3 separate regions of the Homo sapiens genome follow, and all the other regions are linked to region 3. Evidence: fine-mapped expression QTL. A gene starts in region 3. Each other region holds a variant in brackets. All regions are shown on one strand. Distances are between the middles of the regions. Region 1 overlaps LOC105377848 (a long non-coding RNA gene). Region 2 overlaps COL9A1 (collagen type IX alpha 1 chain). Region 3 holds the start of COL9A1 (collagen type IX alpha 1 chain).

Region 1 (10,679 bases), 44 kb before region 3:
GACTTGAAAGCACAAGAAGGTAATGATAATTTTTTAAAGTTGTTTGTGGAATGAGGTGAGAGGTGACCTTTCCTTATATAGGTACCCCACCACTGAAACCTCAGTCGGTTCTATTAATCATGAGTGTTCTCTGGGAGTGGACTTTTATTTGGGGGGGAATTGAAAGTTGATAAAAGGCTTGGATTTTTTGTTAAAATTGATGCCTAGTGAATTAAAGACACACTTGTAGATGTGGAAATCATCTGAGTCCTAGGATGGGCTTTGGACTTGCACAGATCAGGGCAATTTTAGCTACAACTCAAGGAATAGGGAAACTTCAGTTACCAGCTGGGTTATACATGTTAGCATACTAAGTGTTTAAATGTCACTATCAAAATCTTTACCATCAGACACTGGCGTTAGCTGAAAGTTCAGATCAACAGAAGAATTATCCCTTGCAGATAATTCTGCACAATGTAATCTGTGCCCTTCTGAAAGACAGCTCCAGACACTGTAATCCAATTTGTGAAGATTTGGGAAAACCAGATAGTGATCATCTTCCTGCTGTCTCTAAATATAATTCCAACCCTCATACCATTTCTCTCCTTCTTTCTTTGACTGCCTTACTCTTACTCTAGTCTGTGCTTGAAAATGACCCAAAGTGAAATTACATTCTCTGCCAGAGGTAAGCTATTAATTAGAACTAACTGCTCATTAAAGGGAGCCTGCTGATGGGGCAGCCATGGCAGAGTAACTACACTTCGCCATGTCTTTGATATCACATTGGCAATTTAGTACAAAATATTCCAGAAAATTTACACTTCAAACCCTGAAGGTTTGTTTTCTTTTCATGATCTGCGAGCAGGCATCTGGGAGCAAGGACCTGCTACTTGCTTGCTTTTAGGCAACTACACTAGTGAAAGCAACTTTAAATATAAAGTAGGTTCTGAGTTTTTAATTTCTCGCTGAAATAAAAACGTTTTGCTTCTTCCTCTGACCTACTTAGACTTTACCAAGCAGACGCTGCTGGAAAAACAAGAACTTTCCTTGTCTGCTGTTAAGATGCCAGAAAAATGATGAAAAGAGCACAGTAAGTCCATTTATAAAATAAAATCGTTTTAAGTCACCACCAACAGCAGTCTAATTCAGACTTTCCAGACTTCATAAATTTCTGTAAATTTGCAGAAACATTTTTGTAACATGTTAACAAATTCCCCAAACTCTTAGATTCTACATGTTTTTCATTTGGAACCACATTTAAGATATAAATAGAAAAGGAGTTAATATGTATGTAGGAGTTACTAGTTTATTTGAATTTCACATTAAGAAATCATTTGAAATGTGTAAAATTGTGGCTATAAATATGTTGTTTTTAGAGCTTGGGTATACCATTGATGGGCTCAGCATATCTTGAAATAATTGGAAACAGGATTTCCTGCAGTGATATATTTGTTCTTTTTTTTTTTTTTTTTTTTTTTTGAGATGGAGTCTTGCTCTGTCGCCAGGCTGGAGTGCAGTGGCACCATCTCGGCTCACTGCAACCTCTGCCTCCTGGGTTCAAGCGATTTTCCTGCCTCAGCCTCCCGAGTAGCTGGGATTACAGGCACGTGCCTCCATGCCCAGCTAATTTTTTGTATTTTTTACTAGAGACGGGGTCTCACCATGTTAGCCAGGGTGATCTCGATCTCCTGACCTCGTGATCTGCCCGCCTCGGCCTCCGAAAGTGCTGGGATTACAGGTGTGAGCCACCGCGCCCGGCAGTGATATATTTGTTCTAACTAACTTTCTTGTGCTACCAGGTACCGAAAATAAGAAGAGAGTAAAACCATAATAAGAAAGACAAGGTAAATACATATTCATATAGATTTATTTTTGTTAAGGCTTCAGCTGAGGAAAAGAAAAGTTGGCAGACTGTGTTAATTAAGATGAATCCCACGTGCTCTATAAATCTTGATGGAATCACTCAAGGTTTGCAATTTTTAAAATTTTACTGTTGAACAAATTTGACTTGACTCAAAATTATTTGCTCACCTATAAATCATTATAACTTCAGTATATTTTCCCAGTATTTCCTGCAAGTTACAAAAATTTGTTTCAACATTGTTTTGATAATAATTTAATAATAGCATTTAACAGGTATTGAGTGCTTCCATGTGATGGGCATATACTAAGCAATTTTACACATTAGTTCATTTAATTCTCATAAAAATCCCATACAATAGTATTATTAGTGGGTGAAATTGGTTTTGTGAGGTTAGGTAACTTGAGCATGTGGCTGGTAAATTGTGTAACTGGTATATAATAATAACAATTGCTAAGATTTATTTAACATATAATTTAACACACTGAATCTTGACATCAACCCAACAACAGGAGAAGAATAACAAAGTAGTGAAATGTGAAACCAGAGTTTGAACCTCAGCAGTTTGAGCCCAACTCTGTGAGTATTCAGCTATTAAATAGCATTGTTCGAAATGGTAGCTACTAGCCACATGCTATAATTTAAATTTAAATTAATTAACATTTTAAAGAAATTTAGCTCTTTAGTTGCTAGCTACATTCAAGTGCTCAATACCCATATGTAGCTAGTAGGTACCATATTGAACAGTACAGATTACAGTGCACTTCTATCATCACAGAAAGTTGTATTGAACAGTACTGCTCTCAATATTCTATACTAATGTTTTTCTGGTGAAATTTTAGTGAAATAATGTGAACTCCAGGAAAAAAATTGGGAAACACTTGAATTTTTTGACAATACTTGAACTAATTATCATTTGGGGTGAACTTATTTTACTGATGGCTCATCTCATTATTTTTATTATGTTTACCATAAATTTCAAGAAAGAAACATTTCTGGTCCCTTTCCTTAGTTTGGGGGATTCTCCTTAGTTTATTTATTATTATTATTCTTTTAAGAAGGAGTTTCGCTCTTGTTGCCCAGGCTGGAGTGCAATGGTGCGATCTTGGCTCATCGCAACCTCTGCCTCCTGGGTTCAAGTGATTCTCCTGCCTCAGCCTCCTGAGTAGCTGGAACTACAGGCATGCGCCACCACGCCTGGCTAATTTTTGTATTTTTAGTAGAGACGGGATTTCACCATCTTGGCCAGGCTGGTCTTGAACTCCTGACCTCGTGATCCACCCGCCTCGGCCTCCCAAAGTGTTGGGATTACAGGTATGAGCCACCGCGCCAGGATGATGATGATGATGATTATTATTATTATTATTATTATTGAGACAGTCTCACTCTGTTGCCCAGGCTGGAGTGCAGCGGTGAGATCTCGGCTCACTGCAACCTCTGCCTCCTGGGTTCAAGTAATTCTTCTGCCTCAGCCTGCCGAGTATCTGAGACTAGAGGCACGTGCCACCATGCCCAGCTAATTTTTGTATTTTTAGTAGAGACAGGGTTTCACTATATTGGCCAGGCTGGTCTCGAACTCCTGACCTCATGATCTTTCTGCCTTGGTCTCCCAAAGTGCTGGGATTACAGGCGTGAGCCACTGCGCCTGGCCTGTCTTTAGTTTATTATTTATGTATTTACTATTTTTTTTTTTTAATTGAAATGGAGTCTCACTTTGTCGCCCAGGCTGGAGTGCAGTCACGTGATCTTGGCTCACTGCAACCTCCGCCTCTTGGGTTCAAGCCATTCTCTGGCCTCAGCCTCCCCAGTAGCTGGGATTACAGGCACCCACCACCACACCCTGCTAATTTTTTGTATTTTTAGTAGAGACGGGGTTTCACCATCTTGTTCAGGCTGGTCTCAAACTCCTGACATCAAGTGATCCATCCGCCTAGGCCTCTCAAAGTGCTGGGATTACACGCGTGAGCCACTGCACCTGGCGGGATTCTCCTTATTTTCAATCTGTGACTTCCTTTGCAAGAACTACGTGACTCCTAATAACTTTCCACTTGGGACTACTGAGTGTTTAAAATATTTTCAAGGAGACAAGAGATATAAAAGAGTATTAAAAACCTACTCTAAAAATTAGAAACTTTTTCTGATACATATATTTACAGGCTTTTCTTCTAAGGAGAATAACACTGTTGAAATGAAGCAGTTCCCCCACCTTGCATTATCACTATTGTGTAGTCATTTGAAATATAATCTTCTGCACTTCCTGGGAGGAAGCTCCAAGGGGGCAAGGCAGGCTGCCATCTTGGCTGTCTCACAGCCCTTGCTGCTCTTGCCTTCAGGCTCTGGAAAGTGCTTGGTGATTAGGGACTAGCACGGACTCTAGCACAGTGCAGCCACCACATGGAAAAGTGGCCGGACTGTTTTCCACATGGGTCCCCAATACCGCTTCTCGTCACTGGTCGGGGCCTCCTGACCTGGGACTCCAGCCACCCCCTACCAGGGCTCTAGGGCTGGTACCAGCTTTGCACTCCCCTGGGACAGAGCTCCCAGAAGGAGAAGATGGCTGCCGTTTTTGCTGTCTCACAGCCCTTGCTGCTTTTGCCCTCAGGTGCTGGAGGGTGCACGGTGATTAGGAACTGGCATGGATCCCCAGTGCAGCACAACTGCTTCACAGAAAAGTGTCTGTGTGTCTGGAGTTGGTTCCTTCCCATGGGTTCATTCGTGGTCTCGCTGACTTCAAGAATGGAGCCGTGGACCTT[C/T]GCAGTGAGTGTTATAGCTCTTAAAGATGGCATGGACCCAAAGAGTGAGCAGCAGCAAGATTTATTGTGAAGAGTGAAAGGACAAAGCTTCCACAGCATGGAAGGGGACCTGAGTGGGTGCCGCTGCTGGCTGGGGTGGCCAGCTTGTATTCCCTTATTTGTCCCCGCCCTTGTCCTGCTGATTGGTCCATTTTACAGAGTGCTGATTGGTCTATTTTACAAACCTCTAGCTAGCTACAGAGCGCTGATTGGTGTATTTTACAATCCTAACTACAGAATGCAGATTGGTGCATTTTACAATCCTCTTGTAAGACAGAAAAGTTCTTCAAATCCCCACTTGACCCAGGAAGTCCAGCTGGCTTCACCTCTCATCTGGACTGTTCTTCACTTGGTCCCTGTCCCTGCTTCTCCTCACTGGGCAGGGCCTCCTGACCTGGGACTCCCGCATAACTACTCTGCCCTGCCTGGGCACTTCAGTCAGCAGCAGCTCTGCATTTGTCTAAGGAGGAAATCCTGGAGTCAACCCACAACCCCTCCACCATTGCACCTGTAGTGGTACCACCCTAACCACCCTCAGGCTAAGGAAGGAACAAAGGGCTTAGTTCCTGTGCTAGCACCTCCTGCACTGTGTAGCCCCCATACAGAGTCCTGTCTCTCTTCTCTGTGAACCCCCACCCTCAACTCTTCACCAGGTAGGGCCCCTGGGTCAGGACTGCAGATCAGTCGCCCCAACCACAGCTAAGGATGCCCACTGGGAGTGGCTCTGAGTTTCCCAGAGGAGGGGCTCCCAGAGGGAACCAACACCCCTCTGCCATAGCAATGGTTCTGCCTCTGCTGCCCTCCATCTGGGGAAGAAACAAAGAGCCTGAGGGCTTCACCTGCACTTTCAGCACACCACAGTCACCATCGGAAGAAAAGCCCAGTCTCTCCTCCCTGTGAGCCTTCCACCCCCTCTTCACCAAGTGGAGTGCCCAACTCATGCCAGCAGTGCAGCCAACCCACCCCCTGGCTGAATACTCCCATTGGCAGTGGTTCTGCTTCTCTGAGGTAGAATTCCCAGAGATAACTGAAAGGCCCTTTGCCACTGCCGCTGCTGTGGTACTTCTCTTGCTTCCCTCAGACTAAGGAAGGAGCAGAGACCCTGAGTGCTTCAACCACACCTTTGGTAAGCTGAAGTTGCCCTAAGGAGAAGAGGCCAGTCTGTATCCCTCCAGGACCCACCTGCTCTCCCTGCTCATCACTACCAGGGCCTCCCCTTGCCCTTGGGTCCAAAGTGTGGTGGCCCCATCCTGGGCTGATCACACCGATTGATAGTGGCTCCACATCAGAAAGAGGTGTGAGCCTCTTGTCAAAAGACAAGTGAAAGACACTCTGCCACAGCCACTGCTAAGGTCCCTTCACCTGCTGCCTCCAAGCTTGAGAGGGTACAGAAAGTTTGAACTCACCCCAGAATTGTAATGTGCAGCCCAGGAGTGCCAAGCCGAGATATGCAGCCAGCACTCAAGTGGGAGAGGAGACCACCCATTCACAGCACTGAGAGGGAGCCCAGCTGCAATCCTGAGGAAATACAGAGAAATCATGTGGCTAAGCAAGAGCCTACCTACCAGCCATTACACTTAAGCACCACCTATTGGATGACAGTCCAAAACTTCAACACCAATAACACTTAGCTAATATACCCTCTTGTGAAACCAGTGACAAGAATTCAGCTACAAATAAAGACCCTGCACAAAGACTTGGGCCTCTGAAAACATCCAGAAAAGAAGTCAATTGGCTGTACTCAATATACATTGCAGTTAAAGGAACACCAGTGCACACAGTTGAGAAAGAACCAGTGTAAGAACTCTGGCAACTCAAAAAGCCAGAGTGTCTTCTTTCCTCCAAATGAATGCACTAGTTCTCCAGCAAGCATTCTTAACTAGGCTTGCTGATGGAAATGATGGAAATAGAATTCAGAATATGAATAGGAAGAAAGATCATTGAGATTCAGGAAAAAGTAAAAACCCAATCCAAGAAATGTAAGGATTATAATAAAATGATACAGGAACTGATAGGTGAAATGGCCATTATAAAAAAGAACCAAATTGATCAGATAGAGCTGAAAAACACATGACAAGAATTTCATAATGCAATCACAATTATTAACAGAAGACTAGACCAAGCTGAGAAAAGCATCTCAGTGCTTGAAGACCAGCTCTCTGAAATAACTCAGTCAGACAAAAACAAGAAAAAAGAATAAAAAAGAATGAACAAAACCTTTGAGTAATATGAGATTATGTAAAGAGACCAAACCTGTGACTCATTGGCATCCCTGAAAGAGATGGGGAGAAAGCAAACAACTTGGAAAACATATTTCAGGATATCGTCTAGCTAGGCTATCCCAACCTTGTTAGAGAGGCCAACATTCAAATTCAGGGAATTCAGAAAACTCCTGTGAGCTACTACATGAGAAGACCATCCCCAAGACACATAATCATCAGATTCTCCAAGGTTGAAATGATAGAAAAAATGTTAAAGGCAGCTAGAGAGAAGGGGCAGGTCACCTACCAAAAGAATCTTGTTAAACTAACAGCAGACCTTTCAGCAGAAACCCTACACGCCAGAAGAGATTGGGGGCCTATATTCAGCATTCTTAAATAAAATAATTTTCAATGAAGAATTTGATATCCAACCAAACTAAGCTTCATAAGTGAAGGAGAAGTAAGATTCTTCTCAGACAAGCAAATGCTGAGGGAATTGGTTACCACCAGGCCTACTTTATGAGAGGTCCTAAAAGGAGTACTAAATATGGAAAGAAAAGACCATTACCAGCCACTACAAAAATACACTTAAGTACACAGACCAGTGACATTATAAAGCAACCACACAAACAAGCCTGTGTAGTAACCAGCTAACAGCACAATGACAGGATCAAATCCACATATATCAATAGTGACCTTGAATGTAAATGGGCTAAATGCCTCAATTAAAGGGCACAGAGTGGCAAGCTGGATAAAGAAGCAAGGCCCAATGATATATGGTCTCCAGGAGACCCATTTCACATGCAGACACCTATATGCTGAAAATAAAAGGATGGAGAAAAATATACTAAGCAAATGGAAAACAGAAAAAAGCAGGAGTTGCTATCCTAATTTCAGACAAAACAGACTTTAAACCAACAAAGATAAAGAAAGAAAAGAAGGGCATTACATAATGGTAAAGGGTTCAATTCTGCAAGAAGACCTAACTATCCTAAATATATATGCACCCAATACAGGAGCATACAGACTCATAAAGCAAGTTGTTAGAGACCTATGGAGAGACTTACATTCACAGACTATAATAGTGGTAGACTCCAGTTCCCCTATCACAGTATTAGACAGGTCATAAAGGCAGAAAATTAACAAAGATATTCAGGATGTGAAGTTGGCACTTGATCAAATGACCTGATAGACATCCACAGAACTCTCCACCCAAAAACAATAGACTATACATTCTCACCTGAACATGACACATACTCTAAAATAGACTACGCGATTGGAAATAAAACTATCCTCAGCAAATTAAAATAAAAACCCAAAATCATACCAACCACACACTCAGACCATAGTGCAATAAAAATAGAAATAAATACTAAGAAAATCACTCAAAAGTATACAATTACATGGAAATTGAACAATCTGCTCCTGAATGACTTTTGGATAAACAGTAAAATTAGGTCAGACATCAATAAATTTTTTAAATAAATGAGAACAGAGATACAACGTACCAGAATCTCTCAGACACAGCTAAGGCAGTGTTATGAGGGAAGTTTATAGCACTAAACACTCACATCAAAAAGTTAGAAAGATCTAAAATTAACAACGTAACATTACAACTACAGGAACTACAGAAATAAGAGCAAACCAACCCCAAAGCTAGCAAAAGACAAGAAATAACCAAAATCAGAGCTGAATTGAAGGAAATGTGAAAAACCATACAAAAAAACAATGAATCCAGGAGTTCGTTCTTTGAAAAAACTAATAAGAAAAATAGACTAGTATCCAGAATAATAATGAAAAAAAGAGCGAAGATCCAAATAAAAACAATTAGAAATGACAAAGGGGACGTTATCACTTATCCTGCAGAAATACAAAAACCCTCAGAGACCACTATAAACACCTCTATGCACACAAACTAGAAAATCCAGAAGAATCGACAAATTCCTGGACATAGACAACCTCTGAAGACTGAACCAGGAAGAAATTGAATCCCTGAACAGACCAGTAATGAGTTTCAAAATGGAAGCAGTAATAAAAAGCCTACCAACCAAAAAATGTCCAGGACCAGATGCAGCCAAATTTTACCAGATGTGTAAAGAAGAGCTAGTACTATTCCTACTGAAACTATTCCAAAAAACTCATTCTATGAGATCAGCATCATCCTGATACCAAAACCTGGCAGAGACACAACAAAAAGAGAAAACTTCACGCCAATATTCTTGATGAACATAGATGCAAAAATTCTCAATAAAACACTAGAAAACTGAATCCAACAGTACATCAAAAACCTAACCACCATTATCAAGTAGGCTTTATCCCTGGGATGCAAGGGTGATTAACATATGCAAATCAATAAATGTGACTAATCAGCATAAACAGAACAAAAACCAAAAACCATGATTATCTCAATAGATGCAGAAAAGGCTTTTGATAAAATCCAACATCGCTTTATGTTAAAAACTCTCAATAAACTAGGTGTTGAAGGAACATACTTCAAAATGCTAAGAGCCATCAACAGCAAACCCCCAACCAACATCATATTGAATGGGCAAAAGCTGGAAGCATTCCTTTTGAAAACTGGAACAAGACAAGGATGTTCTCTCTCAGTCCTCTTATTCAACATAGTACTGGAAGTTCTGGCCAGAGCAATTTAGTCAGGAGAAATAAATAAAAGGTATCCAAATAAGAAGAGAGGAAGTCAAGCTATCTCTGTTTACAGACAATATGATTTTATATCTTGAAAAGCCCCTAGTCTCTACCCAAAAGCTCCTTGATCTTAGAAACAACTTCAGCAAAGTTTCAGGATATAAAATCAATGTATAAAAGTCAGTAGCATTCTCATACACCAACAACATCCAAGCCAAGAGCCAAATCAGGAAAGCAATCCCATTTACAATTGCCACAAAAAGAATAAAATACCTAGTAATACAGCTAACCAGGGAGGTGAAAGATCTTCAAGAGGAGAATTACAAACACTGCTTGAAGAAATAAGAAATGACACAAACGAATGAATAAACATTCCATGCTGATGGATAGTGATATGGTTTGGCTGTGTCCCCACCCAAAATCTCATCTTGAATTGTAATCCGAATTGTAACCCCTATGTGTTGGGGGAGGGACCCTCATGGGAGGTGATTAGATCATGGAGGTTGTTCCCTCATGCTGTTCTCATGATAGTGAGTAAGTTCTCATGAGATCTGATCACTTTATAAGGGGTTTTTCCCCACTTCACTCTGCACTTCTCTCTCCTGCTGCCATGGGAAGAAGGAAGTGTTTGCTTCTCCTTCTGCCATGATTTTAAGTTTCCTGAGACCTCCCCAGCCATGCAGAATTGTGAGTTAATTAAACCTCTTTCCTTAATAAATTACCCAGTCACAGGGAGTTCTTTATAGCAGCATGAAAATGGACTAATACAGTAAATTGGTAGCTCAGAGAGTGGGGTGCTGCCGTAAAGATAACCCAAAATGTGGAAGAAACTTTGGAACTGGGTAACAGGCAGAGGTTGGATCAGTTTGGAGGGCTCAAAAGAAGATAGAAAGATGTAGGAAAGTTTGGAACTTCCTAAAGACTTGTTGAATGGTTTTGGCCAAAATGCTGATAGTGATATGGACAATAAAGTTCAGGCTGAGGTGGTCTCAGATGGAGATGAGGAACTTCTTGGAACTGGAGTAAAGGTCACTCTAGGTATGCCTTAGCAAAGAGACTGGTGGCATTTTGCCCCTGCCCTAAGGATCTGTGGAACTTTGAACTTGAGGGAAATGATTTAGGGTATCTAGCAAAAGAAACTTCTAAGCAGCAAAGCATTATAGAGGTGACAGAACATACAAGTTTGGAAAATTTGTAGCC
Region 2 (10,679 bases), 70 kb after region 3:
ATTTTTAAAGAACTGACTTGTGTTTTTTGTTGTCAACAGTATAACTAAATTTCATTGGCAGTTATACCATTGAAAAATATTTCAGTAATTGTCTTAATCTCTGATGTGTTCTAGTTGGGGAAGTAAGATAGAGGAATAATGCATAAGAAAATATAATAGCAAATTATTAGAAGTAGAAAACGATCTTGTTCATTTTTGTCATTTTTATAGAAACTAAACTGGTGTCCTTAGAGATTAGATGTATTCAGAATTATAGAATCACTTAGTAGGAAACCTGAGATGACTTGCTAATTGGAAAGGAATTCACATCTAAAACAATTAGGAATTTAAGAAAGGTTGAGGAGAAAAGATGAAGCTCAGACCTCAATCTCAAATGCCACTACTGCCAGCTTCCATAAGTTTCCAAGTCCTTCCTGTTTCCGGAATCTCCTCAACCCTTCTCTGTCCCTGTCCAGCATATTATCCTCATGGCAGCCAATGTCATCTAGATTTTTTAAAAAAATAAAACCCACTGTGTATCCCTCCTCTGTTTAAAACTCTTTAAGAATAAAATCAGATTCTTAGCGAGGTAAACAAAGCCTTTGATGAAGTGTTCTTTGCTCCACGAACCTCATCTCCTACATACCTAGAACTTCATCCATTTGCAGTTTCTTTTACATGCTGTTTAACACCTTGTTCTGGTCTCCTCTTCCTCTTTCCTTGGAATAGCTACTTCCTACTTAAGCATTTCGATCTATCCTCAGCTTCACTTTCTCCAGGAGGACCCAGTCAGACTTGGTTACAATGCCTAGCCTTGGGCTCTTTGCAAACCGCAGAGATGAATATTATTACATCGTATTAACTTACCTGCCTCTAAACACTATGTCTCAAGTTTCAAGTAACATTTTTATGCCTAAGAATTTTTAACAGAAATGGTTGAGGATTGAGAAAAATTTAGAGTAAACCTTGATTGAGTTTGGTAATAGAAATCCTACTTCACTATCTAGAAATAGTAATGTTCAATAGAAAGAATTCAAGCTGTAACAAAAGAAAAGTTAATGAACCATGCAGTGACAAGAATAAGTTAATTGCATTCAAATTTGCATATAGTATTAGGAATTAGCTCTTGATTCATCTCCTTCCCCACAAGTGTCTTACCTGACACTGCCCAGGTAATATGAGTGAAATTGAAGTCTACTGTCCCACAATCAGGGGAAATTGTTACTAACACAAAGACTTACACTTTCTTCATTGATTTCAGCATAGACAAAGTTGTGAAGTAGGCGATGTCTGTAACCTGATTTCTGTTTCAGTATACCACTCCTCAGTTGAGGAATTTTTTCCCAGAGACCCAGGGTCCTGGCCATATTGGCCCTTAATCTCTTCATTAGGAAGTTCCCAGCTCTTACTGTAGCAGTATTTCAGTCATTATCAGCAGGATTATACACTCTGTCGTGGTCTCCTTTGTTTTCTGTCAGTTCTTCAGTATATTTCTGAGTTCATTTTGTCTTCTCTTCTGGGTTCTTTTAGAAGTTGTTGGCAGGGCAAGGTGGCTCATGCCTGTAATCCCAGCACTTTGGGAGGCCGAGGTGGGCAGATCATCCAAGGTCAGGAGTTTGAGACCAGCCTGACCAACATGGAGAAACCTCATCTTTACTAAAAATACAAAAAGTTAGCCAGGTGTCATGGCGCACGCCTGTAATCCTAGCTACTCTGGAGGCTGAGGCAGGAGAATCGCTTGAACCTGGGAGGTGGAGGTTGTGGTGAGCCGAGATCACGCCATTGCACTCCAGCCTGGGCAACAAGAGCAAAACTCCATCTCAAAAAAAAAAAAAAAGAAGTTGTTACAGTTTTGCACCCTAGGCACCTGACAATGTTGCAGCCTTCTATGTAGGATACCTTTTCCTTGTCCTGCTGACAGTCTTTCAGGAAGTCTTTAAACCATAATTTCTTCATAGAAGCAATTTTGGCAAGTTGACTTAGATGAATATCAATTTCTTTTGCATAAAGCGAAATTGGAAAAGCACATTTGCTGAGCTTTATTTGGATGTATCTAGTAAAAGCATTGCTTCATCGCCTTCTTCAGTTTAAAGTATTTGTTTGAAAGAGCCAGCTTTTTCTAGATAAATGATGCATATGAAAAAGAAGCAGGATTAAATTGCTTTATAAACATTCATATCTTGAACACTAGCATTCCCTTGCTGCCTCGTGTTCTTTTATCTTCTCATTCTTATTCTGAACAGCAGCAGTACATTGGAGCTATTCTGCCACAAATTTTACCAGAGGAATTTAACAAATTTTTAGTTTAACAAAAAGTGAATTAATTTGGTCTCTTTTTAAAACATTTATCTTAGATGATTCTTTTAAATGCTTTTAGTGGTCTGCTTTCAGCTAAAAAAAAATCTAACTTGTATTTGCTTTTATGCTAAGGAAACACATGGTTTACTTTTAACTTCTTCAATATTTAGATTTTTTAACTTCCTTCATACTTAAGTAAGTTGTAACTTTCTTTGGTCAAGTTTTTTTTTTTTTTTTTTTTTTTTTTTTTGAGATGGAGTCTCGCTCTGTCACCCAGGCTGGAGTGCAGTGGTGCGATCTCGGCTGGCTGCAAACTCTGCCTCCTGGGTTCATGGCTTTCTCCTGCCTCAGCCTCCTGAGTAGCTGGGACTACAGGCATCCACCACTACGCCGGCTAATTTTTGGTATTTTTAGTAGAGAAGGGGTTTCACCGTGTTAGCCAGGATGGTCTCGATCTCCTGACCTCGTGATCCGCCCACCTGGGCCTCCCAAAGTGCTGGGATTACAGGCGTGAGCCACCGCACCTGGCCTGGTCAAGTATTTTAAATGCAGCATTTTAAATGTGGTATTTTAAGTGCATTGATTTAGTTTAGTAATTCCTGGATATACCTGGCATCTTCACATTCTCTAAAAAAAAAAGTTGTAAGGGCTAAATAACTTATGTTCTTGGAAATATCTTTATTTTATGCTTGCTGCATTTGTGATATGCAAAGTAACATATTTTGTAGGAATGCAGGGGCTTTTATGTAGCCAGAAAATGTTAACAAGCTTATTGAAAACTAAGTTCCTCTTAGAGAGTGGCTTAAAGTATGAAGAATGTAGTTTTTAAAAAATGTAGTATTCCAATAAACGTTTTGCAAGAATAACTATCCCCGAAAGAAAGATTATTATTATTATTATTATAATTTTTGAGACGGAGTCTTACTATGTTGCCCAGGCTGGAGTACAGTGGCACGATCTCCGCTTACTGCAACCTCCACCTCCTGGGTTCAAGCGATTCTCCTGCCTCAGCTTCCCAAGTAGGTGGGACAACAGGCATGCACCACCATGCCTGGCTAATTTTTGTATTTTTAGTAGAGACAGGGTTTCACCATATTGGCCAGCCTGGTCTCAAACTCTTGACCTCATGATCCACCCACATGGGCCTCCTACAAGCGCTGGGATTATAGGTGTAAGCCACCACACCCAGCCAAAAGAAAGATATATTGAAAGTTAACTTGAACTAGATTTCTAAAAGATGGGTAAGTTGTGTAGCATTATGTGTCTTCACCTTGCAGTGAAGGTTTTGTAACCTCTGAAAGAACACCTGTTAGGATGCAGAGTGCAGGAAACCGCAAATTTCATATAAGTGTTTATATGAGTATGAAGCAGGCACATTCTTTATGCTTAGCCCTGGTTTGATAGTGTGCAATTGTGTTCCAGGCAGGTAATCCTGGGGAACCTGGCTTGAGAGGGCCTGAGGGAAGTCGGGGGCTTCCTGGAGTGGAAGGACCAAGAGGACCACCTGGACCCCGGGGTGTGCAGGGAGAACAGGGTGCCACCGGCCTGCCTGGTGTCCAGGGCCCTCCGGTGAGTGGTGGGCAGCTTCTGTGGTTTCCCTTTGGAGACTCCATCCCACAGCAGCAGGGCTGTTCTAGGCATCAGCTTCTCAACAAGTTCTCTTGTAAATCCAGCCACCTGGCTCCTTGCAGAGTCTGTCAGTTTACAACTTAACAATGTTCTCTTTATGGTTTCATGCATAAACTGCCTTTTTTTCTTTTCTGTCCCAGGGTAGAGCACCGACAGATCAGCACATTAAGCAGGTTTGCATGAGAGTCATACAAGGTAAATAAATCACAATGGTTTGACTTTTTCCACCATCAACTCTTGTTTCTTAAGATTTTATTCTTGTAGATACACAAGGGTAAACAAGAGTGACTTTTTGTGTGCCTTAAAGATAGGACATTTAGGGTAATATTAATGCCAATTCTGTTTTTCCAACTATTGGCATCCACAATAGTATACAGCCCGTAGCCTCAATGTAAAATATTACTTTTCTGGTTATCCTGCCTTTTTTTTGTTTTGTTTTGTTTTTTTGCCATGGGGGCTAATTTATAACAAAGTGCACACACACACACACACACACACTTTTTTCCTTTGGAACACAAATTCTTAGTTGTCTCTCCCCTCCTTAAGACCCTACCACTTAGTGTGTACCTAGCACTGACCTAGGCTTTCTCTACATTTTGTGAGAAGTAAATGACAGACTCCATGCCCATAGGAAGCATAAGGACATTATCGCCATTCATGTACACATATGTAAAAACAATCAATAACCAGCATTTACCAAAATTATGACACATTTTCATACTTGTTAACCCTTATCAAAATTTACCTGTAGCTATGGCAATTGTTATTTGTTTCAGAATTGGTCTAGTTATAAAAACACACAGAAAATGAAGATGTGCAAAAGCACCCTATAGCTGAGGAGTTCTGTAACACTGAAGCCCATAGCTAGTTACAGTATTCTGGTGTAGCTAACTTTGTCATGAAGAGATACTCTTTTGTATGTTCACTAGACAGTCTAGTTTGTCTAGGAGACTTGAGAAGTTTTCCAGAACCAAATAGGAATGAAACATTCACTTCTATATTTGAAAAGCAATATAGGCCTCTTCATTGCAGACATTTTGTCCTGAAAGTCTATTTTAGTTTTAAACATATCTAAAAAATTATTATTCCATGCAAACTCTTACTTATATAAGCAAATTTAAAATACTCACATTTAAACAATTTAAAAATGTTGGGTAGAAATTTGTTTCCATTTCATATTCTCCTTTACCCTCTAAGTTTAAAAAATATTACATGAGAATATTTCCCTTAGAATGTTTTCATGGGGAGATTTTGTTGTAGGCCATGCCTTTAGTGGGTGATTCTGAATCTATTTAATGGTTCCTGAAAAAGCCCACACAGTTATTAATTTTTAAGACTAACTCTGACCATTCCCAAGAAACAAGTTATTTTTAATGTTTGTTGTCTATTTCAAGCGTGGAAAAAACTTCTGAGAAGGAGGGTTTATAAGAAGCTGTGACTCCTGGGGATATTTCAGTTTATATAATATCTTCAAACTAAGAATGTGAGGCGAGGTCTCAAATGGTGTCTGAATATTAATTCTGGACAATGTTCTTGGCTTTTAAAAACTGTCTGGACATCTGCTTCCACATATGTTAAGAAACTCATTTTTCTTCCCATCCTGGGTTTTCAGATACCCAGCAGGGATTCAGGTGACATCCTTCCAGAACATCGTTCACCCCAAAGCCTGTAGTTTAAGATTTTTGTGAATCCCACCCCCTGCTACCTCCCTCCCCGTGCCCTGACTCTGTCTCAGAACAACAGGACCAAATATATCCAGGGAGAGCTGCATCAAAC[A/C]GCACCAGCGAAGCTTTCTGGCAGAAAGCCCACAGAGAAATTATCCAACTTTATTCATTTCTTACTACCAATTTTGAAGATCTGGTGACACATTTAGAAAAAAAGGCATTTGGAATACCTCTCTTTTCATTAGAATAACTTTTATGTTTCTGACACTTCTGGGTTGTTTTGTTTATTCTCTTTTAGAACATTTTGCTGAGATGGCTGCCAGTCTTAAGCGTCCAGACTCAGGTGCCACTGGGCTTCCTGGAAGGCCTGGCCCTCCTGGTCCCCCCGGCCCTCCTGGAGAGAATGGTTTCCCAGGCCAGATGGGAATTCGTGGCCTTCCGGGCATTAAGGGGCCCCCTGGTGCTCTTGGTTTGAGGGGACCTAAAGGTAAGTCATCTTGCCCATGTGGAACCAAAGAACACAACCTTTTTCAGATGTATAATCTGTATCAAGCTCGAGGAATTTATGTTTTACCAATTTCTGAATATCCAGTGAGATAAGATGTATTATTCTCTTTTCAATAGTGACGGTGAAGATTCAAAAACTGTTATATAATATTCCCTTGACCCTGCTCTACCACAACAGTAGACCAAATACTAGAATTAAAGTCCCGTGTCTTTTAGGACTGATCTTTTTCTATTATACTCTACCTCAATCATGGTTCAAAACAAAGATAATGGGATCTGGTAAACGATCATTCAGCTATTTTTTATTTATTTATTTATTTTTTGAGACCCTAAAGTCATTGTTGAGTTCCTCTAACATGGCAACCATCCTTAGGATATTTGTATTTGTTATTTAAACTAATAAAATTTGTTAACAGGATGTAAGAAAAATATGCATTAGAGCTGCCTCCCTCTTTTAAAACATGACATTGGATATTTAGTTTTGATGGATTTTTTTTTCAGCTCTGAAGTACAATCTAATTCCTTCTTTAGTATGTAAGATAGCTTGTTTCTTCCACTTTTATTTAAAGCAAGTTAAGCCCTTGCATCCAGGATTTTGCAGAAAAATGGGGCTATGAGTGTGTTAGGTACTCAGCAGGACTGGTGGAAGAACTGGCTGTCTCATTTGGAGTTTGCTAGTTGAGGGGAGTAAGTATATCAGCTTGGGGTGTATGTGCCCTGGATAATTTACAGAGAGGACTAAATAAAGTGAGTAGTTTCTATGTCATGATGAGTGACTGACAGCTTTCTGGAGAACTTCAGAAAGACGTGGCATCAGAAACAAGAGAGGGTTGTTTTTTTTTTTTTTAAGTACTGCGGTGCTCCAATTAGGGATAAATACTGTGGTATGAATGGTCAGATGGCAAGCAAGCTGCCTTTTTGGATCTATAAATGAACTGCTGATGCAGTTGGCTAACTAGACCTTCAGCTGGAACAATTTATTTAATTACATTTTTTTTTGGCGTGTTCAGAGCTTCATGTTAAAAAAATGGGGTCTAACTGAGACCTCTTATAAGGCTGGCATGAATTCAAAGCTTTGGGAGGCTAGACAAAATCAAATAGAGTACAGACTGAGGGTAGAGTTTTTCTTAAAGAGAACTGAACATTTTCTTTGAAAGAGTCACATACCTATTCATCTTTGTCCAGCTTTACTAGTTCAGGAGCTCATGCCTTAGGTGCTCTCTCTATGGTTAGTCTCAATTCACTCTGTAAATAATTTCTAAGAAACTCTACAGCCTTAGGTAGATTGTTGACTTCATTGGATCTGTTGTGCAAAAGCGGGTGGATCATGACGACCTGGCCTTTTCTGAGTTCACTTTAGGGAGTGGTTCTGAGAGAGCAGTCCCCGGAGCAGCGGAGTCACCAGGGACCTTGTTAGGAATGCAAATTCGCTGGTCCACACTGAGTCCACTGAATCAGAAACTCTGGGGTCGAGGTCTAGCTGTCTAGTTTAACAGGCCCTCCTGGTGGTTCTGCTGCACCTGGTGTGGAGCAATCGCCCATTTTCCTACTGAAAGGGAATGACTTATAGGGCCTATAGACATCACAGCCCTATTTTCTTTGGTTAACAGGAAGTCTCCTTGGGGCAGAGCTTAACTTTGTTTGAGCTAGTAACAGAACTCTTCTTTAAAAAATGAAAGCTAAGCTAGGACAGTCTAAAGCTGCCTTTGTCAGCCTTGCCTGCACACTGGAATTGCCTGAGGAGCTTAAAACCACTGATATCTGGATCCCATTCTCAGAGATTCTGATTTTATTGGCTTGGGCATTGGGATTTTAAAATATTCTCCAGGTGATTTTAATGTGCAGCCAGGGTTGAGAACCACTGGAAACAATGGTGAATAGTTTGGGGAAGCTTTAGCAACAGTGAATTGTGGCTAGGCTGGGTTGGGTTGGCTCTAGCAGATGAACCTCAGTTTGAAAGAAACAAAAGTAAATTTCTATATTTGGAACCTGGGAAATGGCTCTAGCACTAAGTTCGTTTGTCAAGTATAGCTTGATCATGTGAGGTATTTCCTCTTAATTTTTCTTCAGTATTCATGACATAATCTATAACATGAAGTGATACAATTCTTTTCCCTTTTCCAAAGGATTTTTTTTCTCCCTACCCTCCTCCATCCCTTTCTCGTTATCAGATTCCTTTAAAGCTGTATCTTCTCTTAGTTTAACTTCTGAGAATTTGGGGTGGAGGTAGGGAGCGGTAATTAAATTTTTAAAATCAATTAACACTGTCATACTTTTGGAAATGTATGATTTTAGGTAGCTGGATTTGATTCTTCTTGTCCCACCACATACATTAACAGGAGTATTTATTAGAAAACATATAGCTTTGTAATATCCAAGGGGTTACAGCTGAAATTTCCCTGAGCATAAACATTCCACCAATTTGAAACTTAAATTTTCAGTCAATTAGAGGAGAGATATATTTCAGTATTGCTTGCTGGCTTTTTTCCCCATCCCTGGTAAAGAAGGGATGGTATGAATCTTGCTCTACCATATGGTCACTTTGAGAGCCTTTTTCCAGAGAAACTGCTGCATAAATAACAAACAAGTTTTATTATGAATGCTTGAACAGTTCAGCCTATGTCTTAGTCACTGTTTTTCTCCTAGAAAATACTCTGAAGAACACAGTAGAACATTTTCAATAGGAACTAGTAGAAATATGCCTCAAATCATAGTCAAAGCTTAGGTTATATCTATAATTTTTCTGTTTTTCACTGACATGCTTTACACAATATTATACAAAATGTTAGGGCCCAGGCTTAAAACCTGAGAGATATCTAACTGGCCTTATATTCACTTTGCTTGGTATTACATTGGTCTTTTGTGTCATAAATATTAGTTTTAAATATTCACAGTTTGGATTAATTTTAAGTCCCTTTGAGTAAGGCTGTATATTTTTAGATATTTTAGTGTGAATCAAACAGACACTGCAATATGTAAATGAAGGTTTGAGAAAACACACATGTCATAATTATGACTAACACCTTTCTCAGTGATAATCTGTTTACATGGAGATAGAGCATCAATTATAGCTCATGAATAAATGAAATAAATAGCAACTATAGAGCAATGAGAATTTCCACTCGTTCATAATGAGCTGTTTTTCTGCTGAAGCTGTGTATTTTTCTTTATACCTTACCTAAAGCTTATTTTACAAGCTCTTTATGCATATTTTTTGACTGAGGAGGCTAACAAAGCTGGACCTTTAGTTCCCTAAGCTGGTTTTTGTACATCTCAAAATAAGACATGATCAGGGTTTGAAGTAATAGATTAACCTTGTCGATAGAACCAACCTGTATACATGGTTTGCTGTGGAGTAGCAGTTTGCAGAATAGGCTCTGTTTTGGAGCTCATCTTAAAACTTGTTTTTCTCTGACTGATAACCAAAAGACAGTATCACAACAAAGACACTGGTCTTAGTCCTCGAAGCAACATTAAAAGTTGGTGTGGCTTCATGCTAGAATGTACAAACAAGTTTAGCTTTTACTATCAGTGTAAAAGCCACACTTTAATTTATAATCTTCATCTCATATCTTCAGAAATGTGGCACATTTAGACAGTCTGTTCTCATTGCCAGCCTCCAGAATTATAGTGATATGACACTTAAATTACCAAGTTAACAAGAATGCTTATGCCATTAGTTTATAAGATGTTAATTGTCGTATCTTCCTAATATAGTAAGGCCATATTGATGATGAATGTTAAAAAAACTAGCTTATGTAAATATGAGTTCAACCTGAGTTCAATCCGTCATAGTATTTATATAAATTTAAATTGTTTTGAAATGTGATGAAATGTAGTTTATCATAAAAACATTCACATGAAGACATTCACAACTAAAATCAAAGTATGGTGACTAAATATTCACTTCAGAATTAGAGATCTTTGACTATCTGAGTGCAGATGGTTATACAGATATTTTTTCTGTTTTTGTTGTGTACATGACTTTGTTTTTAAAATTATAACAAATATGACTTAATATTGAATGAGGCTAAGCTGAAACAAATGTTTGGAAAAAAAATGGTATGTATAGAATTTATTGCAAGGTGCCATTGCATTTTCTAACAGCATAGTAGAATAATGATATACTACTGTACTACCGGAATAATGGGATAATGCCTTCAACAAAGAGCAGCAGACATCATTTAGGACCAGTTAACTAAGGAATTAATGCCTTTTGTTAATGAGGTCAAGTTGCTGGGTTTGGTATCTTCAGGGGCTGGGATAATTAATGCAACTTTGTTCTGTGGCTGCTAAATCCCCAATTTCAATCAACTGTCTTGTAAATGTCTTGCAAATCCACATGGTTGGTTGCAATCCAAAGTATGTTCCCTATAAACAATGAGTCAGTAGTGAAATGTAGACACTGTAACAACACACTTTATGTTTTTAAGATTGATTAATTTATATTTCATAATACTAAATTTATACAGTTCCAAAAATTAACAATGTATAAAAAAGATATTTAGTGAAGTTTCTCTCCTATCCCTGTCTCCCATCTGCCTAATTTCCTTTCTCCTTCCCACTAGGTAATCAATACTATTCTTTTCTTACATATCCTTA
Region 3 (10,679 bases):
TTTCTAATCGAATGTTTTTTAAGCCATGAGTTGTAACCCATCAGTTGGTCCTGAAATGTACTCACTGATTTGGTTATCATCACTCAAAAATGAAATATAATAAAACAGAAAATAGAATATATTACATTTATTTATTTATTTTTTAACTAAGAAAACATAATTTTAATCATGGTAAACTTTGTTCAATTCCTGTGTCCACTGTGCACATTCTTCAAAACTGTTTTGGTTTTGTTATTAATTTCCTTTGAAATTTTTCTCATGCAAGACTTTCAGAATCTTGTTTACACACATGCACACACACACATAATTAGGATAGCAAAATGTTCATAGATGCTGTAAAGTTGTGTGAATTCTATTTTTAAAATAAAAAAATGTACATATTACTATAAAAATAACTTCTCCCCCTTGTGGCAAAAATTGAAAATACATTCTACTGGAGAACTGTAAGAGAGGCACTTAGGTATTATTCCTTATAAAATATTTTCACATAACTTCATGTGAATCCCCCATGTTATCCTCTAAATGGTACACAGTATTTACAAACAATATGCTTAGAGGTAGCTTCACAGTTTTCTTTACATCCAGCATTGTCCAGACTCTATTTGGATATTTTCTATAGCAAAAAGCTAAAGGTTATTTATTTTTCTAAAAACAGGGACTCACTATGTTGCCCAGAGTGGTCTTGAACTCCTAGGTTCAAGTGTTCTTCCCACCTCAGCCTCCCAAGTAGCTGGGAAGCTGCAGACTTGATAAAAGTGCTACAATAAAAGGCCAGAGTTGAAAGGAACCAGTTACAGTATAAAGATTAAAATGATAGGCAGGCAAAGAGGGATGGCCTCACTTAGAGACACCTGCCAATTTAAGATTACAGGGGCATCAGGAAGGCTTCTCACCTCTCAAAGTTTAATCTCAAAACTCTGGAAGTCCACCATTGGAGACTAATTCCTTTGTTAGTTCTGTCCAATCTTCACTTAGTTTATTAACATAAAGATAACTGGAAGGGATACGACACTTTCCTCATTTAAGATTCCCAATGGTGAAAACAAAGAAAGTCACTCATCGGAGCTATAAATGAAACTTAGCTTTCTTATTCCAGGTTCCTACTTCCTTCCTTAACCTTCCATATTTCCTCCTATTAAGTCACTAGGCACTTATAATTCTACATTTTACTGACCTTTCACTGATTATAAAGTAATTTAATACATTTATATGAGTAACTATTGCTTTCTGAAACTTTTGTTCTGGTTGTGTATCTGTATACGTAGTAATAAAGCCCATTCAATCCATCCTCCAAGCAACACCAGAACTGTCTTTCTAAAGACACATCCAAAAAAGTCATTATTGGCCTCAAACTCTTCTCTCAGTTCCTATAACAGCCAGAATAATGTCTATGCTTTCTTTTGATGTCATTCAAGATCCTTTACCCAACTCCTCCCCCGTGGTCCTCCTACTTGTGATTTCAGAAAGTGACATCACCATCTACTCAGTTGCTCAAGCTCAAAACCAGGTAGTTTTCCTGTCCCCCACCCCTTTTCCAATCTACCCACCAATCTTATCTCTTTATTCTCATCTGGTCTGAGTCAAAATTAACGACTTCAAAGCAGCCTTCCCTAACCCCTCAACCTAGACCAGCTTCTAAACCTTCTACAGACTCTATGACACATTGTCTTCTTTTATATTTTTCATAATGTTTCCACCTGAAATTATTTTGTCTATTCTTGTAAATGTGTTTAGTACCTCTCTTCCCACCAGTGTGTAAGCTGCATAGGGGCAGGGACCTGATCTTTCTCTGGTTGTCTCTCTGGTGTTAAGGTCACTCAGGGAGCATGGTAGAAGAGGCATCAATAGATATTTACCAAATGAAAGGATTCTTTGCTTCCCAAATGTCCTCTTTTACCTTTTTGTTATAGTATCTTCTGTTTTCTCTGTCTAAAACATACTGCACCCACTTATTCTCTTAGTAGCCTTAGTATCCTTCACGATTTCATCTCTTGTATTAAAAATTTCCCGATGCCCTTGGATTATGCTAATACTTGTTCTCAGTGACACTACAGCCTTCTTATTCTCTGAATTGTGGTCGCTTTCATATTGGTCCTCCATGCTGGATTGTCAGCTTCCTCAGGGCAAGGCTGTGTTTATTCACACTTTTTGCTTCCTCACCTCCCAGCACATACTTGATACATATACTACTGTATATAGTTACTCAATACATGATTGAATAAACAAAGGGAAGAAAGCAGATGATCAAGAAAGATGATTATTTGTGATGATGTTCCCCGATTTAAGCTTTAAGTAAATAATATTCTTGATTTATAAGAAGAAGGAGATTAGTGTGTGTGCATTCTGTGAAAAAGTATGTGGGGGAGGGATGAGAGGAGGTACAAAGAAAAGTATAACTGTTCTATACAAAACACTTCTATTTATAAAATGGATCATTTTAAATATTAAGCTGTCTTAGTTCATTTATAATCTGATATGATTGACCACATTTCATTTCTACATGGTTTTTCAGAACCAAACTGTTAGGTAAGGTGAGGAAATAATGCTAAGGGTGAAAAAGCTTATGCGTCTATGACCTTAGGGTGCAACTGACCCAGACCAGAATAGTGTGGCATTTGCACTGCTGTCTGTGAGATTCTAATGTCGCGTTAGGAAACAAGATTAATAGAAAATGGGAGTGGAGGGAGGAAAAAAAATTTCCTTAAATAATATTGTATATATCTTTGTTCTCTCTGGATCGACTTTCTTTTTTGTTTTTTGTTTTTTCTTTTCTTTTTTTTTTGACATAGGGCCTCACTGTCTTGCCTAGGCTGGAGTGCAGTAGTGCAATCACTGCTCACTACAGCCTCAAGCTCCTTAGGCCCAAGAGATCCTCCTGCCTCAGCCTCCTGAGTAGCTGGGACTGGAGGTGTGCATCACTGTGCCCGGCTAATTTTTGTATTTTTTGTAGAGATGGGGTTTCACCATGATGCCCAGGCTTGTCTCCAATTCCTGAGTGCAAGTCATCCGCCTGCCTTTGTCCTCCCAAAGTGCTGGGACTACAGGCATGAGCCACCCTGCCTGGCCTGGATTTACTTTCTTTCTTTTTATTAGTATTATTATTTTTGAGATGGAGTCTCACTCTGTCACCCAGGCTGGAGTGCGGTGGTGTGATCTCGGCTCACTGCAACTTCCGCCTCCTGGGTTCAAACGATTCTCCTGCCTCAGCCTCCCGAGTAGCTGGGACTACAGGCGCGTGCCACCAGGCCTGGCTAATTTTTGTATTTTAGTAGAGATGGGGTTTCACCATGTTGGCCAGGCTGGTCTCGAACTCCTGACCTCAGGTGATCTACCCACCTTGGCCTCCCAAAGTGCTGGGATTACAGGCGTGAGCCACTGTGCCCAGCCTACTTTCTTTCTTAAAATAGCTCTTGCTTGCTCCTACCATCTTAAATAAAACTGCCAAGCTAGAAAAAAGCCACACCACCTATAAGCAAACCTATTTTTCTCTCTATCCTTTCATTTTTAATTAAAAGGCACCCTCACTTGATTTCAAATTCTACTTGAAGAGGATTCATTACAGTGGGAAGGAGAGGGGCAAATGCGGAATTGAGATCTCTAAAGCAATGAAAGGATTTCCCAAACACTTCATTATAATGAAAAATCCCTCTCTCCTTTCTTACCAGAGTAAGTAATATGAGAGGATCAATCATGCAAATAAATAGCTTCAATGGACAGTCCCTTTGGAAAATGCCTTTTCCCCTGTGAATCTCTGGCTGGCTTACCTCCTGTGACTTCAGGATGTCAGGAAGGTCCCCAGCTGCAGTTTCTCCTCTGAGGTTAATAGACCGCTTCTTTCTCATGAGCCCTGACTGACTTAAACAAATAAGCTAAGATCTGGTCATTTGTAGTTCTGTCACAGAGCCAGGATGGCTGCACTAGGGAATGGGAATTTTGATAGACAGAAGGCAAATGACAGGGACTTGTAGAAAGCCCCAAACAGCATGAGGAAATGGGTGTCCCTCTGGGAAAGAGAGACAGGACTCCAACAGGTGGGCTATGAGTAGAAAATAAAAGGGCAAAAGCATGGATATTAAGTTTGCCTGATTTACATTTCATCAGTGAGCTGGGGGAGGCAGAAACTGAAAGGACTTTTTTGGAAAAGAAATAAACAAATGAAAAATAAGAAGCAACGCTATTGTTTTGTAATTAAATAAAAATTAAATCAATTAGAAAACGAAATTTAAAAATTTCAAGAAGCCAGGTGCAGTGGTGCATGACTATCATCCCAGTTACTCAGGAGGCTGAGGTGGGAGAATCCCCTGAGCCCAGAAGTTCAAGGCTGTAGTGAGCTATGATTATGCCACTGTACTCCAGCTTGGGGGACAGAGCGAGACCTGAGACCCTGTCTCTTAAAAAAAAAAAGTTCACCTAAAAATTACTTTGCTTGTACTGTGATTTTTGAGATCATTGGATCTTCTGACCTTTAGAGTCTTGGTTTTTGGAGTAACCACCCGTGTCCCTCAAGACAAGGCCAGAGGTTGGCCATGCTGAGTGGGTGGTAACGGGGGTGATGTGGGGGCTATAGGGAATTCTCTTTAGGTGCTCAGGTTCTGGAGAGACGGCATGGCATGTGTGGTAGCGATGCTGATAACATGCCTCTCTCTAGGTTTGTGCTCCTTGTAATTTGCTCTCACCTTGTTAACGGAGGATAATATGTTGCTTCTTTCCAGATACAGTGTCCTCTGCTCAACTCTGGTAGTCTCAGAGTTTAAGAATAAACAACAAGTAGGGGGCTTGATGTTACATTTTATCAGGATTTCTATCCATGAGGTAGAGAGAGGGAATGTGTATTTAGTAATAGGCATGGCACTTTGAAAAAGTTACTTCATTTTCTGCTTCCTCAACTTTCTTATTTGGAGAATAAGGGTAACTTCAGTCTTACCTTATAATGTTGTTGTGAGAATTAAATGGCATTAAGCTTTGAGCATTTTCAACAGACGGAGGTGCATAATGAAGCGTTAGCTATGAAGACGATGACAAATAATGATTGTTGGGTGTTAGACCCTCTGCCTTTGATACCTCATTTAATTCTCAAAACCATTGTTTTAATGTAAGCATTTTCAATCTGTTTTACAGTTAGGGCATCTAGTTACAGAAAGGTGAAGTAACTCTCTCAAGGACACACAGCTAGTAAGCTTCAGAATAAACAGGGATTGAAACTTAGGTTGATCGGGCACCAAGGCTCCCACGAGTTTCCACACCTCTGCCTCCCAGTGGGCACATTTTTACTGGAACCTCAGCCCTCTGAAAGCTTCCACTGTATTCCTATAGCAGTTCTGAAAGCTGCCATTGTACTCCTATAGCAGATCTAAAAGCATCTACTGTGTTCCTATAGCACCTTGCCTGGATCTTTCTGGTGAATTTCCCCACATCCTGATTTTATTTTTTTCTTTTCAGCAAACTTTCCCCTGTAAATCCCTCCTTCAGTATAACCTTGTTAGCTTTGAGGACACACCCCTAGGCCTGGGCTCAGAGCGCTGCTTCTCCCCACCCCTTTCCTTTGCTTCAGTTTAAAGTGTCACGAGATGCCTCTGGTTCTCTCCCTTTGCTTTTAGCCCTCACCGGGGGCAGGAGGGACCAAGGCTGGGCCCAGAACACATAGTCCTAGGGTAACAGTGAAGGGGTCGTGAGGGGACAGTGACTCCCTTCCAACCCCTTCTTCATAGGGACTGTTGGCAAACAAAGAAAATCAACTGGGAAAATGAAGACCTGCTGGTAAGACAATAACCCTGGAAAGAGTGGTGGGGAGATGGAGCTGGGGGTCCTCAGAACCAAGGGTCTGTATTTTTGCAGCAGTGGTAAGATGAGAGTAGGTGAGCCTCAAGGTGAGAGACAGAAAGAGAGACGGATGAGAGAGTAAGACAAGAGGGCAAGCGTGAGAAACCGAAGACAGACACAAAAAACCGAAGACAGACAGAGGAAGGGAGAGAAAGTGACGGCCACAGAAAAAGAGAGGAAGGAAATCAAAGGTGAAAGAAACCAGAGACAAAGAAATAGGTACCAAAACAGTGAGATAGGTAGATACCGAGAAGGTGAGATCAATAAAACAACAACGACAGTGGGGTCTGGAAACATGAGTTCCTTACATCTCTCAGTAGGGTTTCAAAGTAAAAATGAAGGCTGGGTGCGGTGGCTTATGCTTGTAATCCCAGCACTTTGGGAGGCCGAGGCGGGCGAATCACGAGGTCAGGAGTTCAAGACCAGACTGACCACCATGGTGAAACCCTGTCTCCACTAAAAATAGAAAAAGTAACTGGGTGTGGTGGCACGTGCCTGTAATCCCAGTTACTCAGGAGGCTGAGGCAGGAGAATCGTTTGAACCCAGGAGGTGGAGGTTGCAAAGAGCCGAGATCGCGCCATTGCACTCCAGCCTGGGTGACAGAGCGAGACTCCGTCTCAAAAAAAAAAAAAAAAAAAAAAAGAAATGAAAAAAAAACTATACTGTGATTTGATCACCTTACATTAATTAGGTTTACTAGGTTTGAAAATATGGAAGTGTTTTCCATCTGCGGGGACTCCTGTTTCAGTCATTTTTCTTCTCTCTTCTTCAGGAAAATTCCAGTTTTCTTCTTTGTGTGCAGTTTCCTGGAACCCTGGGCATCTGCAGCTGTCAAGCGTCGCCCCAGTAAGGGCCATAGTTTCTAGACTTTCAAAGATCACTTATTCCCAGAAATGATCAGGCAGGGCTGTGGCTGACTGAAGACTGAGTGAGGCATTCATAGTCCTTCACACCCTCACTCTTCAATCCAGCTTTGGGGCACAGGGATACATTAGGTTCTGGTTTTCCATGGTCAATGCTGGGTATGGAAAGTAAGTCCTGTCAGTAATCACAGTTGGTAGGAAGGCCAATCTGTGAGCTGCAGTGCCTAGTGCAGTGCCTAGTACAGATGGTGATTGGTAAATGTTGGGTGAATACATGGATGAATGAATAAATAGACTGATGGATGGATGGACCTCAACAATTTGGGGTGAGGAGAGTATAAAGAGCATGTTTGATGTACCATTATGGTTAGGCCCATGCTTTTTTATATTTATATTTTTATTTTTTTGAGATGAAGTCTCACTCTGTCACCTAGGCTGGAATGCAATGACACAATCTCGGCTCACTGCAACCTCCGCCTCCCAGGTTCAAGTGATTCTTCTGCCTCAGCCTCCGAAGTAGCTGGGACTACAGGCATGTGCCAGCATGCCTGGCTAATTTTTTATATTTTTAGTAGAGACGGGCTTTCACCATGTTGGTCAGGCTGGTCTTGAACACCTGACCTCAGGTGATCTACCTGCCTCAGCCTCCCAAAGTGCTGGGATTACAGGCGTGAGCCACAGCGCCGGGCCTATGCTTTGTAACTGAATAATACTTTTTTTGAAGTCTAGAGAGTCTCTGTTGTCAGATGAATCTTAGCAAGGCACTGAGGTTGGATATTTCCAAGAAGCCTTCTGTGGTGGTGAAAAATCTCTCTTCCCTTTGACCTTCCATTTGTGTAAGGAGAACACAATTCCATTCTATGATTTCTTATCAAATTGAGGATTTAATCCTTCTCATGATTATTTTCTTCTTCTTTTTACTCTTCCCAGTTCTAAGATGTTAGGATTAATCTAGTCGGGACTTTTATTTGATCTCTTAGAACGAATTTATGAAATCAAATCCATCCTCTATATTTTATTTAGGATTAGTGAATCTCAAGACTTCCCCAGGCCCCTATATCTGACAAAGATTCCTAAGAACTCTACTCTCCAGAAGCCCCACTGAACTGGACCAAGGTTGGCTCTGGAATCTCACTGGAATCCTAAAATTTGTGGTGTTTAAGGAACATTTTCTAGCCCAAACCACCAGGAATTTTCCAAACAGATTTCTGACCCTGTGCCATTCAGGACACCATTCAGCTTTGGTTTCAAAAGGAACAAATGCCTAACCTCTTCAAAACGAACATTTTCCCAGCCAGATTATTAGAGCAACTTTGTGCCTTGCATCCACCCCTTCCAGGATGAGTTGCAGGTGGACAGATTATAATCGTAGAGGCATGGAGGTAAAGCCAAACACTTTACCTCTAAGCAAGCTGGTATAATATTGAATTTTAAATATTTATTATTATTGATACATCCTGAAATCTTTTTTTTGTGGTCAATTGCTATTTTCTGGTTCTAAATTTTATTATTATTATTATTATTTTATTTTATTTTATTATTATTATACTTTAAGTTAGAGTGGATGAAGTAGAATGACATGCTATCTCTTTTGCAGGATTCCCTGTCAATTCCAATTCTAATGGTGGAAATGAACTCTGTCCAAAGATCAGGATTGGCCAAGATGACTTACCAGGTGAGTAGCAATGTACCCTATTGAAAATGCATGCTTTCTATAAACCTGATTTTTTTTTTTATTTGGGAAAGTTGTGGAAAGAAATAAAACCAATCTCATTTTAGACTTTTCATTTTGTATTCCCATTCTATAGGGTTTGATCTGATCTCTCAGTTCCAGGTAGATAAAGCAGCATCTAGAAGAGCTATCCAGAGAGTAGTGGGATCAGCTACATTGCAGGTGGCTTACAAGTTGGGAAATAATGTAGACTTCAGGATTCCAACTAGGTAATCTATCAAAAATATTTTAATCTAATTATCTGACTCAAATGCATTAAAAATGGATAGCTATCCAATGTTAGAGTTTTCTTATGATCAATGTTTCTTGGATTATAATTGTATTTAAAGATGAAGAAATTTATTTACCTGCCTATCTTCAGTACCTTAATACTGCATTTCATGTTTTCAGTATGTAATTTACTTTCCATTCCAGGAAAAAGCATCACTGAGACTATTATACATTGATTCAGGACATGTTCTTATTACCTTGCTTTCTGTTTTTCTATAATTTGTCTGGTTTTGACTGAAAGGACCCTCTGTGAAAAGTGCCAGAGGGTAAGCATAAATTTAACTAGGAGCCACAGAGTGGTTAGAAGACTCACAATGGTGCTGTTCAAGTGTCCTGGTGCTGAAATGGAGCCACACGTCCACTGCTTGGCTTCTGGCAGACATCAAACCAAAGCAAAACTAAAATAATTATAATAGAAACAATGATAGTAATACTAACGACATCAAATCCTCCACTTCACTGATTTCTTTCTCTGGAACTAAGCCTTTTGCTCTTTATTTAAAACTGAGGTACTTTAGTGTGTAAGTGTTGAGTCCTGTCATCATTATGAATGAATCTCAGCAATTTAGTTTTGATATCACCTAAATACCTTATTTATGATTATGATAATTATTATATGCTTTAGCACACTATAAAAAAACTAGAATTAAAATTCCTTTAGTAGATAAATGAGACAATTAGGACTTCAATAGAAATTAAGTTATAAAGATAAATAATGATTAATTAGAACAATAAGATAATATAGAAACTCAATGTATATAAAAATAAAAATTTTGAACAAATTAGAAGAATCTGATATAATAGTACCAGATTACAGCTAGAAATTCATATTTTGAACCTACTATATATTATTGTATAATACAACAATAGTACATTATATGAGCTCTTTCTATAAATTTACTAATTAACATTAATTTCATTCTCATCACAACCCTGTGATATAGGGTCATTATTAACCTTTTTTTTCTTAAATCAGGGATCCCCAAAAGTTTAATTTACTTGCATAAGGTGAGTGGGTTGGAATGTGCTGGAAGGACTGAATCCCAGGCAGAATGGTTGCAAAGGTTTTACTTCTAACCACTACTCCATACTGACTCTGGAAAACCATTCACATCTGGAAAGATTAAAACCATGATAACAGTGAATTCACTTTTTTTTCCTCATAATTTCTTTTCATGTATGGAAGTGCCAGTCGTGTTGCTAAATAAGCTTTAAAAATTCAGTTTTTTCTTTCTTAAATAATTAAGCAAAACATGAGGTCCTCAGTGCTGACCTGATTTTCTCTTCTAAGGTTTGAGGTACTGTCATTAACTCTTAAGTTCAGAGATTGATTAATTTGATGCCACGTGGCTTCCTTACCTCCTGCTCATCTTCGTTGTTGTCTAGAGCTGTCACTAAATAATGTACCCAGGCTATATTTAATGTCTCACATTTGCTACCCTTGACTCCCTGCCCCCATAAGGACTAAAAAATCTTGTTTTACTGTCAAGGCTTGTTAAAAGATAAGGAAAGAAGGAGGAAGAAATTAGGAAAAGAAAGTAGGAGAATAAAAAGAGAAGGAGGAAAGTTAGAGACTCAGACATGTGGAATTCCAAGTAAACAGTAAAGTTTATTCTTGGGAAAGTACTTAGACTATCTTTACTTCAGTTCCCTCAGTTTAAAATTAGGAATAGTAACTCTGTCATGAGGTTGCTATGTAGAGTAGGTGTTCATAACTGGAGAGTGCTTCAAGAGCCCAGTCCACACTGGTATTGGGTAAGTGTTTATTATTAGTGGTGAAGAGCACTAGAAGGAGAAAATGCATGTATATGAAAGTCTTTTCTCCTTAGAGGATCCTTTCTTTATAATCTGCCTCCCAAGTCCTGCCAATTCAAAAGCTGGTTGACAAGGAGACTAGGGATGGGAATTGCTCTCGGCCATACGAGGTGTAGACAATGTTCCTATAAAGGGACTTTCTGTGCTACAGAACATAGGCTCTGAGACAGTGAAAGAA

Evidence for each region. PIP is the estimated chance that this variant, and not a neighbour inherited with it, causes the effect.
Region 1: its variant is fine-mapped to the expression of COL9A1 in testis (GTEx, PIP 0.93).
Region 2: its variant is fine-mapped to the expression of COL9A1 in esophagus muscle (GTEx, PIP 0.91).

The regions. Positions count from the first base shown.
Region 1 is chr6:70,342,033-70,352,711 of GRCh38, reverse strand. It overlaps LOC105377848 (a long non-coding RNA gene), which reads left to right. Exons shown (of 4, transcript XR_942670.2): 2 at 986-1,069; 3 at 1,779-1,823; 4 at 4,443-6,842. Among named protein-coding and RNA genes, the nearest start is that of COL9A1, 44 kb to the right of the region's middle. The variant C/T (reference allele first, on the strand shown) is at 4,594.
Region 2 is chr6:70,227,961-70,238,639 of GRCh38, reverse strand. It overlaps COL9A1 (collagen type IX alpha 1 chain), which reads left to right. Exons shown (of 38, transcript NM_001851.6): 34 at 3,700-3,846; 35 at 4,047-4,101; 36 at 5,869-6,057. Among named protein-coding and RNA genes, the nearest start is that of COL9A1, 70 kb to the left of the region's middle. The variant A/C (reference allele first, on the strand shown) is at 5,683.
Region 3 is chr6:70,297,989-70,308,667 of GRCh38, reverse strand. It overlaps COL9A1 (collagen type IX alpha 1 chain), which reads left to right and starts at 5,584. Exons shown (of 38, transcript NM_001851.6): 1 at 5,584-5,757; 2 at 6,594-6,667; 3 at 8,282-8,359; 4 at 8,493-8,625. The coding sequence starts at 5,744.